Linked DNA regions of Homo sapiens: region 1 is linked to region 2. Evidence: fine-mapped expression QTL. A gene starts in region 2. The other region holds a variant in brackets. All regions are shown on one strand. Distances are between the middles of the regions.

Region 1 (8,337 bases), 37 kb after region 2:
GATAACTCAGTTTCAGATAAACCATCTTGGTTACTGTGCTTAATTTGGACCAAATTTTATTTAGCTTAATATGGACACTGACACATTTTGGGGGGTATACATTAGACATATCAGAGCAGTGTATTTCTGGATCATTTTTTAAATGACCTCTTCTAAAACATAACTGTCACTTACCTGAAATGCTGCATCCTAAAATTCCAAAATTATATTGAGCAATCGCCAAGGCCTAAAGCCAACTGACTTAAAGGTAATCATTTCAGCTAAGATTAAATTTAAAGCCTAAGAATGTATAGAGCTAGTTTTAAAATAATGATCTCAGATTTTTAAAAAGGATATAGGAACCTGCATTGTCATTCTCTGAATTAAGAACTGATGGTTTCTATCATTATTTAGCCCCACCTTTGTATTTTAAAATCCTTCAGAATACATTTATGAACCAATGCGACTGGACTTAGCCACACACAATGGAAATTCAGACCTTGACTATTTGGTGTTTCCAGTTCACAAAGGTGATGAAGACTGTCTTGGGAGCAGCTTAATCCCAAAATTTGTACATTTCTTGCTGCTCCTGGCGTGGAAACTTAAGTGAGACCACCAAATACATTGGTCCTGTCCAATTCTACTGAATGGGGGTGGACCTGGCATTTATCTGGCCAAAAACAGGAGCCAGAGAAATATGAATATACCAAAGTTGTTTGTTTAGCCTCCAACTTAAATTACATTAGTCAACTTATAGATACTCATATGATCACTTTTCTTTTTAGATACTACATCAACTAGATTCAGGAGTATATCATTTGCAGTGCTTGTATTGGTTTAAAATGTAAGATTTTAAGATCCTCTAACACTGTACTAAAACATTTCAATAAAATCATTCTGACTGCGTTCATAGTTTGTATGTATCATTGTGGAGTAATATGTTTTGACGGAGTGATGTGTTGCAGTACCTGAAAATGTTTGCTACTTTACGATTATAGGCCAGCATACAAAATTACAGAAAAGCCAGAAGTTAATTGATGTCAGCTGTTTTCCATTTTGAAGGTGTTTCTTCCTGAAGAACTTACCAGCAATCGCCTTTCCTCAAAGCGTAACAGCTGTGCCACATAAGGTGTCCACGTTGTTAATTCCACATGTTTCCTATAAAATTAAAGATGGTACAGTGTGTTCACGCATCAGAGTAGTGATGTTCAATATCCATCTATTGGAGCAAACCAAACTTAAATGTAGGCTGCATAAAACTTGTTCATATTCATTGATTTCAGAAGCACCGAGGAGGATTCCTGTCCCCATAGAACAGCCTGTTCAGTGATACTTCAAACTACTCTCGTGAGCGCAAAGTCAAGTCATAATTACGTTCCCCTGGTGAAGCTCAGCTGTAAAGTATGTGTAACACTAAGAATGGCAACATGGTGTCTTGAAGTCACAGTGAAATATGAAGAATTACATCCAGGTCCATCTGAGAAAAAAGGTGATCACAGTGTGAGAGAACATGATAGAATGTACTAGAAAGGAGGGAAGTGAAGGAGAAGTGAAAGCCAAAGACACTTCATCAGCTTTACAATTGCACTTAATAATGCTGCCACACCTCTTCAGAGACGTTTCATTTCCTATGGCATGTCCTATCTAATCCCCTAGCTGAACTACAGGGGACAGGGAAGTAGTGAAGGGAAAGATGGAGTACTAAGGCGTGCAGAGGTTGGAATCACGCTGGGGATACCAGGAAGGGCTCGGTGATCACCATTAGACGGTTCACGTCGGAATTTTCCAGAACCCTATGGTGTGTTCCAGTGTGGACTGACGCAGGACAGCAGAGGGCGTTTGGTACATGATGTGTTTGAGCAAGGATGTGCCAGGGAAGATGGGAGTTAGGGGCTGAAACATACTCAGCTATCCTGTATCTAAATTGCGTGAAATCAACAGGGCTCCTCCTTCTCATTACCAATATTTATCTTCCTGATTTATCTCCCTGTGCCCCAGGAACACATCCCTCCACCTTTTTTCTGCCCCTGCTTTCCAAGATCACATCCTGGGTGGTTTCCTTTATTGCAGTCTTTGAGCTCTGTTTCCTATTCTGAAAGCATAATGCCCAGGAACACAGACTTCACCACTTACCGGAGTTTAAAAACCAACAGCAACAACGACCTTGGGCTGGTTGCTTAACCCCTATGCCTCAGTTTCCTTACATGTGAGATGGGGATAATAAATGAGACGTTATGTGTAAAGTGTTTAGAATTGCTTGGTTTGTACATTAACTTCAGTTTTTAGAGTGAGCCTCCTGAAACTCCCCTAGAAAGAATGTAAGGTATGAAGAGGCAAGATTTTCATGCATTTTCTAGGTGTTCATCCTAGAGGGGAACAGACTGCCCTCCTGCCATTTTAGAAGGGCTACATTGTCTTGGCATGTGACTGCCTCAGTGAAGGGTAGCATTTAGGTGACAAATAGTTGCATGTTAAAAAAAAAAAAAAAAAAAAAACTTGATTATGCTGAAAGTAGTGGTTCTACCAGCATGTCCCGTGGTTCCAGCGCTGGTTTTGCCCACCACATTAACATTTTTTTCGCCCGAGGGCCAGCACTACCAAGTAGAATATGCATATGCTTTTAAGGCTATTAACCTGGGTGGCCTTCCATCAGTATTTGTCAGAGGAAAAGACTGCTGTAATTATCATACAGAAGAAATGCTTGACAAATTATCGGATTCCAGCACAGTGACTCACTTACTCAAAATAACTGAAAACATTGGCTGTCACTGTGATGACCGGAATGACAGAGGTACAGAGGGCACGCTATGGGGCAGCTAACTGGAAATACAAGTACGGCTATGAGATTCCTGTGGACATTCTGTGTGGAATTGCTGATACTACTCAGAATGCTACAATGAGGTCTCTTGGTTGTATGATTTTCATTGGTATAGATGAAGAACAAGGCCCTCAGGTGTGAAAGTATGATCCTGCAGGTTACTGCTGTGATTTAAAGCCACTGCAGCAGGAGTTAAACAAACTGAGTTAACCAGCTTCCTTGAAAAAAAAAAGTGGGCCGGGTGCGGTGGCTCACGCCTGTAATCCCAGCACTTTGGGAGGCCGAGGCGGGTGGATCACCAGGTCAGGAGATCGAGACCATCCTGGCTAACACGGTGAAACCCAGTCTCTACTAAAAGTACAAAAAATTAGCCGGGCGAGGTGGCGGGCGCCTGTAGTCCCAACTACTCTGGAGGCTGAGGCAGGAGAATGGCGTGAGCCCGGGGGGCGGAGCCTGCAGTGAGCCGAGATCGCGCCACTGCACTCCAGCCTGGGCGACAGAGCGAGACTCCGTCTCAGAAAAAAAAAAAAAAAAAAAAGTGCAAAAGAAATTTGATTGGACATTTGAACAGACAGTGGAAACTGCAATTACATGCCTGTCTACTGTTCTATCAATTGATTTCAAACCTTCAGAAATAGAAGTTGGAGTAGTGACAGTTGAAAATCCTAAAGTCGGGATTCTTACAGAAGCAGAGATTGATGCACTCACATTGTTGTTAGTTTACCAAATCCATGATGCCACTTACCTGTGTGTTTGGTAACAAAAAAAACAACATTATGGAGGTCCCTGGATTGAAAAAGGAGCCTCTCCCACTCCTCCTACTACTGAATTGATTAGGACTCTATAAATAAAAGCAATGCTTTTGGTATCTCAGCATTTTAGGAGGCCAAGGCAGGTGCATCACCTGAGATCAGGAGTTTGAGACCAGCCTGGCCAACATAGTGAAACCCCATCTCTACTAAAAAATACAAAAATTAGTCAGGCATGGTGGCGCATGCCTGTAATCCCAGCCACTTGGAGGCTGAGGCATGAGAATCACTTGAACCTGGGAGGCAGAGGTTGCAGTGAGCCATGATCACACCACTGCACTCCAGCCTGGGCAACAGAGCAAGACTGTCTCAAACAACAACAACAGCAACAACTTTCAGCTGAGTGCCGTGGTGCATTCTTGTAATCCCAGCTACACAGAAGGCTGAGGCAGTAGGATTGCTTGAGCCCAGGAATTTGAGACTGGCCTGGGCAACATAGAGAAACCCCGTCTCTTAAAAACAACAACAATACTTCCAGTGGGCTGTAGAAACAACAGGTAGGAATGAATGTCATGTGATTATAGAGATGGTAATCAATTGAGGTCATTTACAACAACCTGATTTCATTGTAGCCCTCATTCACCATCCATCCCATCATAAATACAACCAAAAGTGGTGCCCAATATAAATGGGAAGAACAGTCTTCACTATCCTAACAGCCGAGTTCTGTGGCCAAAAGAAAACCTGGCTGAATGAATTTTACATTTTAAGAGAGTGATAAAAAAAGAGAATAGGAAAGTGAAAAACATAATGCAGTGGAAAATGCCCTAAATTGGAAGTGTGGCGATCTAGATTCTGGTTCCTGATATGCTGCTAGCAAGCTGGGTGACCTTGGGAAAAATGTGTACACCACTCTGGGTATGAGCATCTTTCTGCAAAAATTAGAGGAAAGATGATTGCAGAAGTCCCCAGCAGTTTTAATAGGCAATGCCATTTATGCTAGATGTAGTTGGAATAGTTCTAACTGAAGGCACAGATGGTTGCTCTCAATAGGGTGACCAACTTGTCTTGGTTTGCGTGGGACTTTTCTCGATTTAGCCCTGAAAGACCTA[T/C]ATCTTAGGAAACCCCTCAGTCCTGGGCAAACCAGGACGTTTGGTCTCCCGTTCCCTCTTCTAAGGTGGATAGTTCTGCATCCCCGGCACTACCTTGGTAAGGAATCCCACGAGCATGGCTTTGATCTTGTGCTGGTTGCAAAAACAAGCAGGCTATATGATGAGCCCAACAATGTGCAGGGCACCTGTGGTATCACAGGTCTTTTAAAATCTGTTCAACTAACTATAGAAGCTCAAGAGCTGTAGTCACAAAATCAGAGAGAAAAAGCAGGGGCACCTTTAGAAAACACCTTCAAGCCTGGCTTGATTGCCAGTCCTTTGGCACAGCTACCTTTAACACCATAAGTGGTCTTCAGAGACCCCAGGGAACAGTCCAGGCAGAAGGCAGAGTGCTCTGAAGGTTACCTGATGTACGTTGTCCTTCCGCACATTGAGAGATTCTTAACATTTGTGAGGGCATGGCCATCTGTGTCTGAGGACGTATGATGCTCTGATTTTCCCTACACAAGGAGTGCTAAATCTAGTATTTTCTTGCATGGAAGCTAAGACTGACCATGAATTATGGACATATTTTAAGAACTAAAACTGAACACGTCACTCTTTAAAATCATCCTAATGATTATTTCTGGGCATATTTTGATGTACATTTACCATAGGATAAGCTCAGTATGTGCCATTGACATTTACTCACCCAAGGAACCAAGGAGCGACCCTAAATTTCTTTTCTTTTTCTTCCTTTCCTTCCTTCCTTCCTTCCTTCCTTCCTTCCTTCCTTCCTCTCTCTCTCTCTTTCTTTGTCTCTCTCTTTCCTGTTTTTTTTGAGACAGAAGGTCTCACTATATTGCTCAGGCTGGTCTTGAACTCATAGTATCAAGCAATCCTCCTGCCTCAGCCTCCAAGTAGCTGGAACTACAGGTGTGCACCACCATGCCTGGTGCAACCCTAAATTCCTTTAAGTCTCAGAAAACCTTGTATTTAGGACCAAGGCTATGGAACAGAAGAATCAAAAGAAAGATAGGCAGAGATCCCTCTCCACAGCAATGGTGATCTGACCTCGCATTAATTTCTGCACCTGGATGCATTCATAGCATTCAAAGAGCAATTCTTTCTTGAACACCGACCAAGACTCATTCCTTGTCCTAACAACAGTCAGGCTCCTCTGAATCCTCTCCTTGACCAGACCTGTCTTGGGCTTCCCTCTCTGTCATTGTGGAATTTAGTTTGAGCAAGAATCCTGTGAAGTCAGTTTATCAAAAAAACTCCTGCCCTTGGTATCTGACCACCCTCGATATCTTATCACCCAGGCTTGCCTTTAGCAAGAATTCTATTTGAGTTGATCTAGCAAGAATCCCTCCTACCCCTGATGTTTCCTTAGTGGTTTTCCATCCACGGCCCCCAACCCTGCTCGTTGCTTACAAATCCCCACTTGTCCTTGTTGGAGTCAGAGCTGAGATTAATCTCTCTCCCCCACTATAAGACCCCATTGCAGTCTGTGGTCCCTAAACCTATCACAAAGACCCCCTTGAATGAAGTCTTCCTTAGTGTCTTCAATGAATGTGATGAATAACTTTTTTTTTTAACAATACAAAATTCACAGAAAAAGTCCTATGAATTAAAAAGCACTCTGGGGAAAACCAGTTGGCGCGAGAGTTATTTTGGAAGAATCAATAATCCTCCACTGATGTGCATTGGTACAGCCATAAACACACTTTCAACCCTTGCGTTTTGGAGAGGTTTTATTACATGTACATAAATTAGGAACTTTAATACATCGGAGAAATACCACTTGCTTCTCTGTATTTTGACTCATGTGAACATCTTGGCTTAGACATATGTCAAACGGAAAATTCATATTTTTAGTCCTTCCACAGGCAAAATGAAGGAGTTGGTCTTGTTTCATTCATTCATTCATTCATTCATTCATTCATACACTCAGCAATCCCTTATGAAGCACCTATTAGTATACCATAGTGTTAGGATGCGGCTGTCATATAAGTATGAGATAAATAAAATACATGAATAAGGCTTATGTAAATCTAGCCTTCAGAGTTGACACAGGTCGTTTTTTGTTTGTTTGGTTGGTTGGTGTTTTTTTGAGATGGAGTTTCACTCTTGTTGCCCAGGCTGGAGTGCAGTGGCATGATCTCAGCTCACCGCAACCTCTGCCTCCCGGGTTCAAGCAAGTCTGCTGCCTTAGCCTCCCGAGTAGCTGGGATTACAGGCATGTGCCACCACGCCCGGCTAATTTTGTATTTTTAGTAGAGATGGGGTTTCTCCATGTTGGTCAGGCTGGTCTGGAACTCCCAACCTCAGGTGACCCGCCTGCCTCAGCCTCCCAAAGTGCTGGGATTACAGGCATGAGCCACCGCGCCCAGTGACACAGGTAGTTTTATGCACAATCATTTGATGTCAGCAACACAGAAGTATGATGGCACCATGCTGTAGGCAGGATAATTTATTTGGGGTGTGTGAAACAGTGGGGTGACCAGGAAAAGGCTAGGAATGTGGCCTGCTGGGTTCAATTCTCAGCAGTGATTCCAACACTTTATCCCCCTCCCCAGATTTTCTGGTATATCAGGCTTTGTTCTTTTAGTATTTGTGTTGGTGTGTTCCTATTCTTTTGGTATTTAAAAAAATTGGAAATCGGAATCATTTATATTGTGAGCCTACAAAGACAGCTATATTCAGCATTAAAATGCAAAAAGAACAAAGGTGCACTTGTTTAAAAAGTATGTGACCCCATCTCTTCCAGATCCTCCTACGAGATACTCCATTGTTTGCAAAGCCAATTCTGGTATACTTCTGCTGTTGAGCTTTTTTTTTCCCACATTTATTAGTTTCTTATGTTTCTCTTGTATTTTCCTGAGAGCCAATTTTATCCGCAATAAAATTCCCAAAGTCCTCGATGGAGGCATTTCAGAATCGGGGCAGGGGAGGCAGAAGGTGAGACAGATGTGAAGAACTGGAGGAGGGTGTTGGGGGTGGAGAAACGGGAGGGAGGTTGGACAAACTAGCCCAAGCACCAGCATTTCCCCGGGGCCAGACACTCCCCAGGGACAGATTCCCTGCTTTCACCTCCCAGCATGTTTCAAGGTTGTTCAGCCTCAACACTCTTGCCATTTGGGGCTGGCTCATTCTTTCCTGGGGGAGCAGCATCCCTAGCCTCCACCCACTAAATGCCGATAGCAACCCCCATCCCACATTTGTGACAACCAAAAGATGTCTCCAGACCTTGCCAATGTTCCTTGGGGGCAAAATCACCCCTGCTTGACAACCTGATTTATTTTAACCAAGACTTTCTTCCTCAATCTTCTTTCCTGAAGACTCAGGTCAGAGTTACAGAGGAGATTCATCCTGGCCCCTGGCCCAATCACAACTAAAAAAGCATTTTAGCACAAAGTGGATAAGACAACGGCAATCATACCTCACTTTAAAAAATTCAATGCTAGCGTTTTGGTACAAAATGAGGTTTACACCAAAATAATCACATTATCCTTGTTTTGTTGTTTTGTTTTGTTGTTTTGTTGTTGTTGTTGTTGTTGTTGTTTTTTCAGAGACAAATGTCTTGCTCTGTTGCCCAGGCTTGAGTGCAATGGTGTGTGTGGCACCATGCTTGGCTAACCTTTAAATATTTTTGTAGAGACAGAGTCTCGCTATGTTGCCTAGGTTGGTCTTGAAC
Region 2 (8,337 bases):
TGAATAGCTTTCCATTGTCTGGATGTATCACAGTTTATCCGTTCACCTACTGAAGGACATCTTGGTTGCTTTGAAGTTTTAACAATTATGAATAAAGCTGCTATAAACATTCATGTGCAGTCTCCTTTGCCCATTTTAAAATTCGGTTGTCTTTTTGAGTTGTGGTCATTTTTTATATATCCTAGATACAAGACCCTCATCAGATACATGATTTGCAAACATTTTCTCCCATTCTTTGGGTTGCCTTTCTTTCTTTTTTTTTTTTTGAGAAGGAGTCTCACTCTGTCGCCCAGGCTGGAATGTAGTGGTGCAATCTCGGCTCACTGCAACCTCTGCCTCCTGGGTTCAAGCGATTCTCCTGCTTCAGCCTCCTGAGTAGCTGGGATTACAGGTGCGCGCTACCACGCCCGGCTAATTTCTTCTGTATTTTTAGTAGAGACGGGGTTTCACCATGTTGGTCAGGCTGGTCTCGAACTCCTGATCTCGTGATCCGCCCACCTCAGCCTCGCAAAGTGCCGGGATTGCAGGCGTGAGCCACCATGCCCGGCCTTCTTTCACTTTCTTGATGGTATCCTTTGAAGCATAAGTTTTTCATTTTGACGTCCAGTTTATATATTTTTGTTGGTGGCGCTTGTGCTTTTGATGTCATATTAAAGAAATATTTGCCTAATCCAAAGTCATGAAAATTTATACCTATGTTTTCTTTTAAGAATTCCATAGTTTTAGGCTTTAAGTTTAAGAATTCCGTAGTTTTGTAAAGATGCCATCTCTACAAAAAATACAAAAATTAGCTTGGTATGGTGGCGTGTACCTGTAGTCCCAGCTACTCGGGAGGCTGAGGCAGGAGGATCACTTGAGCCCAGGAGGTCGAGACTGCAGTGAGCGGTGATCACACCACTGCACTCCAGCCTGGGCAAGAGAGTGAGACTCTGCAAAAAAAAAAAAAAAAAGAAAGAAAAAAGAAAAGGAAAGAAAAGAAAAGAAAAAAAAGAAAAGAAAACAAGAAAAGAAAAAGAAAAGAAAAAAGAGAAGAAAAAAAGAAAAAAAGAAAAGAAAAAGAGTTTTATAGTTTTAGCTCTTGCATTTAGGTCTTTGATCAATTTTAAATTAACGTTTGCATACGGTGTGATGTCTTTATCTTTTTACAGATATATGCAGGCTAAATAATTTAGAGGTGAATATATAACATCTGTAATTTACTTTAAAATACTTTAGATAAAAACAGATAAAGCAAACATGGGAAAATTTTGACAGCTACAAAATCTAGGTGGTGGGTATATCGGTGTTCACTCTATTTTCATCTCGGTTTTTGGATTTTTCTTTAAACAACAGAAGTAAAAGGTAAAGTTCTAGAAATAAAAATCAGAAAAATTACTTGATTCTGAGTGAAAATGTTATTAATAGAGAATTAAAGTTGAATCTATTTTAACTTATTTTTAAAGTACATTGCTTATAAATGTTAGCATTTCATAATAAGTTATAAATTATTTGCCACACCCCTAATAAAAACATACAAGAAAAAGGTTATGTCAGAGTGTCTTGGCATTGCTCTTAGGAACTAGTGTTCTAGAACTTCTTGTTCTAATACAGCAACTATCAGCCACATGTGGCTGATGAGCACTTCAGATATGGCAAGTCCAAATTAAGATGTGCTGTAAGCGTAAAATCTATATTGGATTTTGAAGGCTTGACACAAAAAGATGCAAAGTAGCTCATTAATATGTTTTATGTTGATTACATGTTGGAATGATAATATTTTGGATATTGGATTAAAGTGTATTATTAAAATTACCTTCACTTGTTTTTTATATTCTTTTAAAATACAGCTACTAAAGTGTAAATTACATATGTGGCTTGCATTATATTTCTTTTTAAAAAGTTTAAAATTTTTTCATAGAAACATATAGGAAACAATCATTACATTTCTTTTGGATGGTACCATTCTAGAGAGAAAAGGACTGGACTAGAAGATCCACATTCTAATTCCTTTGCTGCTTTCAACTAGCCATGTGACTTGGGGAAATTTCTTCCGTTTCTCAGCCCTAAAATAGTCAGGGATAAATTCACTCAGCAAATACTTAGACTTCTTACTATATACAAAGAACTTGGCTAGATGATGTGGGAAATAGAAGACGTGAAACTGTTCATAAATTCAAATCATTGTTTTACCGTTAATCTCTATCCATGAGTCAATGAAGATAGAAATCAACAATAGAAAATATCTCATCATTTTAATTTTTTCCACTAACATTTTATCTTAAGATAATGTATATTTTATAAACGGTCTGAGACCCAGATCACATATGCACAGAGTATATGTTCTTTTTCTCTTCTAAGTCTTGGGTCTTTGAACAAGTGTTCCATTTTTCCAGAGGCTCCCCAACTTCAAATGTTGTTCAAGAAGTGCACTGTGGTAGACAGTTGGTGGACAGTACTCATGCCCTCCAGTTGTCCCATACCATGTTGACAGCTGGTCTTGGCCATGTAACTTGCTTTGGTCAATGAGACATTAGCAAGCAAGTTAAAAACAGAGGTTTGATAAGCACTTGCTCATTGAGACTTATCTTCTTGGAACACTCCTTGGAACCTTGCAGCCATGCCGTAAGGAAGCCCAAACAACCATGAAGAAAGGCCCACATGGAGGAGAGAAGGGCCAGGGGTTCTTTCAAACTAGTGATTCTCAACCTGTGGTGATTTTGCTCCTTGTAGGACATTTGGCAATGTCTGGGGACACTTTTGGTTGTCACAGTGGTGGATAGGTGCTACTGGCATCTAGTGGGTAGAGGCAAGGGAGGCTGCTAAACAATCTGCAATGCACAGGACAGTCCCACAACAAAGAATTACCCAGCCTAAATATCAGCTGTGCTGAGGTTCAGAAACCTGCTCTAGACCAATGTTTCCCACAACCTGGCTCCTATGGATCAAGGATAAAGGCATTTGGGAGAGAAAGTTTTCACACTTAAATAAAATTATCTGTAGCTGCTCATTTACAAGTGACAGCTTTCTGAACAGTCTGTGACTCATGATGATTTTTCAATGATTCCCATTAGTATTCTCATCAACCCCAATGGCACATTTCACCTTGTTTACATTTAGCATTTAAGCAGAGTAACTCATCAAACTATTGAACCAACAATCATTGTATTAGTTGCCCCAACTGAGATATTGTTTCTCCTTGGTGCTATCAAGTCCATGGTTTGTCACAATTCAATCCGAGCTTCCAAATCTGCAGCCATTTACCCACCCAAAGACCAGGGGCTTTAACTTTTACTGTTTTATAGTCCATCAGCTTTGGTTCTGTGTTACCAAAGAACCACAGCCCCATCATGCTAAGAGGATGCCACTTTCCCTTTGAGAAGAGCATCTATATATTTAGAAGAAACCATTATTAGTCAATTTTATCTATGAGAGAAATATTAAGAATATAAAAATTATAGTAATTTGCTGATAGTAAATTTTATTAGAAGAGTTTAAATATAACTACATTAGCAGACTCAATAAAAATTTTAAACATAGTGGGTCAAGTATAAATCTCATTGCTATGGTAATTAGCTGTGAAATACATAGATAATAAACCATTGCAGATAGGGGTTTTTGTTTGTTTTCTCACATAATAGGGCACATATGCATCTCTAGGCGGAATGAAAAAGGGCCAGAAATGCTGCTAAAATTGTCAGTTTGAATAACTTTTTGATAGGCTGGCAGATACAAAAGTTTACAAGAAACACTCGATGTGCCAAGTAATCTCCTTGCAAAGTACAAGGACCCAGATGAAAAATCCCAATGATGCGAATCATCCCTGTAATCTCCCAAATCCCATTATGAAGTCTGATTAGAGTAGGCTACAACCCAATTGCAAGTGGGCTTTGCTGTTGATGGAGAGCCAATTCGTGGCAAACATTAGTAAAACCAAGCCATTTATCTACCCGGTTGAATCAGCCTTTGTTGAGGAGTGTGAAACTGTGACCAGCATCACCAACCAGCCCTCTATAGACAGGGACTGCTTTCCTTTCTCCTACACTTGGTTTGTGCCCTGAAGTTGGCTCTGGTACTGCATTGGCATCTTGAGAAAACCTTTTTGCTGGTTTCTAGCAGGAAAGAGAGGAAGGAGGCCCTGACTCCAGGGATGTGGAGGGACTGAGCTGGATTGTCTAGGGAGATCTGTGTTCCTGGGATCAGGCCCTTGAGCACCCAACAGGCAGAAGGTTGTGAAGTGCCCCAAGGACCATCACATCTACCGAAAAATGGTGAATCTGGGGGACTTGGTTTGATCCAGTGAGCCACCAAGAGCAATACTTCCCCTCAGCCTGTGATGAGGACTCACATAGTGGTTGGATTTTTTAAGGACACATGGTGCAGGGGCAACTCTGTAGTTCAGGGGTCATCAAGTTTGAACTATGAGGGACCACATGGCCAATATTTACATTTTGCAGACCAAGCAAGAAAAGGGAAGATATTACGTAGGAACTTACATAACAAGAGAGAAAAAATTGTCACAATGTTTTTATTGATATAATCCAAAATACGGTAATATTTGAGTACAATTATTTGCAACTCACATCTATTAATGAGAGAAAAGGAATTCTTTTGCGGGGGGGATATTTCTCTTAATTGGAGTTCAAAGGCGGTGTCTGCTATCATCACATAAAGTGCAAATGTTCATGTATGAAAACCATGCTTAGCTCTCTGGTACAAACACAGGGAGCTCTCGCGATCTGGCCCATAGGCTGTAGTTTGCAGACCCTTGCTATAGCTGAACACCAGTCGCCCACACTGGGTTTGCGGTGTTCCGGGGTGGGAAGTCGCTCCGGGCTGCGAAGCACCTCGAGGGATCCCCCCGGCCCGAACTCTCCCTCTGTGCCCAGCTAACCGCGGTTCATTGGCTCTCCCCGCGAGGCAGGTCTGGAAGATCAAGAATGAAGCTCGGAGCTCTCTCGCGGAGCAAGGACACCTTCGGGCTTCAGGACCACCCAGGGCGTCCAAAACTGCTGCCAGGGCTGTGCCCCCGCCCCCCGGCACTTTCCAGCTCCCCCTCCACGCCCGCTCTTCCTCCCTCTCTGCCCCCTCTAGCTCCTCCTCCGGCTCCTCCCCCTCCGCTCCTCCCCTTCCCTACATCTAGCCGCCGCGCTTTCCCGCTCCCGCAGCAGCAGCCTCCCGCGTCGCTGTCGCTGTTGCCTCCGCCACCTCCTCCGCCGCCGCGCGCCCCTCGGAGTTCCGCGCCCCACCATGCCCAACATCGTGCTGTTCAGCGGCAGCTCGCATCAGGACCTGTCCCAGCGCGTGGCCGACCGCCTGGGCCTGGAGCTGGGCAAGGTGGTCACGAAGAAGTTCAGCAACCAGGAGACCAGGTGGGGGCCGCGCCGGCGGCCGGGCTAGGGAGAGCGCTGGGCACGCGGCTGCGGGGCCGGGTTGGGGGCCGGCGCCTGCCCGGGCCACCTCCGCGGACGCCGCGCTCCCCCTTCCGGGGCGGGACGGTGGCAACGCGGCCTCCGCGCCCCCGCGCCCGCGCCTGCGAAGAAACCGAGGCGGGGCGCCGCGCGTCCCGATGCGCGCCTCGGCTGTGCCCCCGGTTGCAGGGCCTCCGGTCCTGGGACCGCGGCGACCCGGCGGTCCCGAGCCGCTCCCGGCCTCCCAGCGGTGCCGCCCGGCCTGGCGTCCCCAGCCCGGAAGGGAGACGTCTGGGCGGTCACAGACCGTCGGGGAGAGAGTGGGCGCAGCGGGCGGGAACCGCATCGGGTCAGCGCGCGGTGGAGAGACGTCCTGGGTTGGCTGGTCCCAGTTTCCGCGTCCCTACAAAGCTGAACCTCAGACCAGTGCGTGCGACTAAAGGTTTCCCCCCGTCCCCAACTCTGGTTGCACGCTGGGTTTACCTGGGGACGGTCCGAACGCTGCTTCCCCCGACCTGCCCCCAAGGGTTTGATCCAACGGGCGGAGGATCAGCGATTTTACAAGCTTCCCTGGCTTCTCCTGAGCAGCCAGGGCGCAGACCACTGCGTTATCCAGAGGGTGCAGTTGTGCCAAGGTTTGAAAGACTGTGAGAACCCCAGGACGCACGTGCTGGGCTCCCCTCTGCTCCCACTACTCTTGCTGCTTTAAAGATGATGGACTTTCAGCTTCCTTCTTGTTCTAGGACTCTGCTGTGTCCAGCAACAACGCCGTGATTCGACTGTAACTTTCACCCATTTCTCAAGTCCAGGAGAGCCTCAGGTGGTGGCCATCCTCGGAAGCTGACCTGGGGGGCTCCTTTGTCTATCTGCCTGAGTCCACACAGCTCCTTGACTCATTTCAAATTGGTCTCATTTTTCCCCCTTCTTCCTCCAATGTCTAGTACCGTTAACTGTCCACAGTTACTGATAATTTTTATATCTTTGGCAAAGGTTCAATTTTACCAACATTTTCTAGAAATGGTGTTGGAACAGTTGGACACCCATATGCCAAAAAATATGAACTTCCATCCATACTTTTCACCATTTGTAAAAATTAACTTTGAAGTGGATCATAGACCTAATTGTAAAATCTAGAACTATAAAATTTCTAGCAGAAAATCTTGACTTGGGGTTAGGCAAAAATTTCTTAAGGAGGAGTTATGTTAATACTGATGGGGAAGATGCTATATTTTGGCAAGTCAGCTTTTTAGGATATGTGAATCTTACGTGACTTCTTCCAGGTGGCAAATTCCAGTTATGGCTCCGATGATAATATAAGCGAAGAAACATTGTGAATGAGTGGCAGGTGGACTTTGGCTAAAGAATTCCACTCTGCAGTGTTTAATGCAGAAGTCTGAGAGGATGGTCTAGGGCTCTGGAGAAGGATAGAGCTAGGTTTGAGTGTTGCAGTATTTTGCCAGTCTTGTTCAAGTTTCAGTCGCTGTAAGAACACGAGAAGAAGAATAGTTTTTGTTCAGAAGGTGTCGTCATATAAGTAAAGGAGAAATTTGTTGATGAAGTAAATTTTGAAAGCAAATATGTTGCCCTTCCAGGTACTCAGTGCAGCATGATCTTTTGCTAAGGAGCATGGTTAATCTAGATCAGTTCACTGCTAAGTCAGTGTTGAGTTTCTCCTAAAAATACCACATGTGCCACTGGGCAAAACTCACTCAGACACTGAAGTATGATTGTTTATACATTTGGTTCAAATATAAAGCAGACTCACTTTTATTTTGTTTTTGGCATTTTATAACCATCACTTGATAATTAGAAATCGTGGGACCTCAAAAACCACTCAGCATGAAGTTTGGGAATTGCCTATATAGCTACATTTTATGTTTTTAATGTATAGAGTATAAAAGGTTCACTGCCTGACTTTTCTCTTTTCCATGAACTGTACAAGTACAGAGCTTAATTTTTATAAACAGCCCTCTCTGGACCAGTTACTGTGCTAGGAATCCAGCTTTTAGCTGTGTAATCGTAGAGAGGAAAAACTGAAGGGCAAAATGAAGACAAAATTGATTCAGTTCATGTAAGGGCCCCTTCTTGAATCTGTCACTGAACTAGGATCAGAAATCTGGTTTGCTGTCTCCTGGCCATCAATCCTCCCATTTTGCGTTTTTTATATGCTACTTTACTGAACATAGAGCCTTCCAATTTTACCTTCTTATCCCTAAATCATTTCAGATATGCAGGGAGAGGTCCGCTCCAGCTTCACTATAGACCATGGAAATTCCATGATGACATCTTAGGACAGCAGGTGTCTAGATGTCTCTGTTGTAACATTTTACTATGGTCAGTTAACCTGCTGGCAGAATCTTTAGCTATACTGTGAGACAAGGTTATGCAAAGTTATACAAGGTTATCGGTTACCATGTAATAAATAAAGAGCTTAATGGCTTAAAACAGTAATTGTTGATTTGGCTTACAAATCTGCAATTTGGGAAGGGCTCAGTGAAGAAAGCTTGTTTTTGCCGCGTATGGTCACAGCTGAGGCTGGTCACAGCTGAGGCGGCTAACTGGGGCTGGAGGGTTCTTGAAGATGGCTCACATGACTGAAGTTGTTACTAGCTTTTGCCTGGGAGCTTGGTTAGGAACCTCAGCTCCTCTTCTTGTAGGCCTCTCCATGGGGCTGCTTGAGCTTCCTTACAGCATGGAAGCTGGGTTCTAAGAGCACATGTTCCAAAAGACAGGACATTGAAGCCACCAGTCCATTAAGGACTGGGCTTGCAAGTTGGTGTATCATAATTTCTGTCATATGCTGTTGGGCAAGTACAGAGCCCTCTCAGATTCAAGGGCGGGAGACTAGACCCTGCTCCTTGATGGGAAATGTGTTAAGAGTCTGTGGCTATCTTTTAGTTACCATGCCCGTTTATTGTTGAGTCAGTGACGCTCTTCAGCGTTTTTATTT

The links.
Region 1: its variant is fine-mapped to the expression of PRPS2 in whole blood (TOPMed, PIP above 0.99).

What each region holds. Positions count from the first base shown.
Region 1 is chrX:12,823,334-12,831,670 of GRCh38, forward strand. PRPS2 (phosphoribosyl pyrophosphate synthetase 2) reads left to right here. Exons shown (of 7, transcript NM_002765.5): 7 at 1-889. It also overlaps the pseudogene PSMA6P2. Among named protein-coding and RNA genes, the nearest start is that of PRPS2, 36 kb to the left of the region's middle. The variant T/C (reference allele first, on the strand shown) is at 4,659.
Region 2 is chrX:12,786,272-12,794,608 of GRCh38, forward strand. It overlaps PRPS2 (phosphoribosyl pyrophosphate synthetase 2), which reads left to right and starts at 5,141. Exons shown (of 7, transcript NM_002765.5): 1 at 5,141-5,348. The coding sequence starts at 5,227. RefSeq lists a silencer at 5,397-5,846.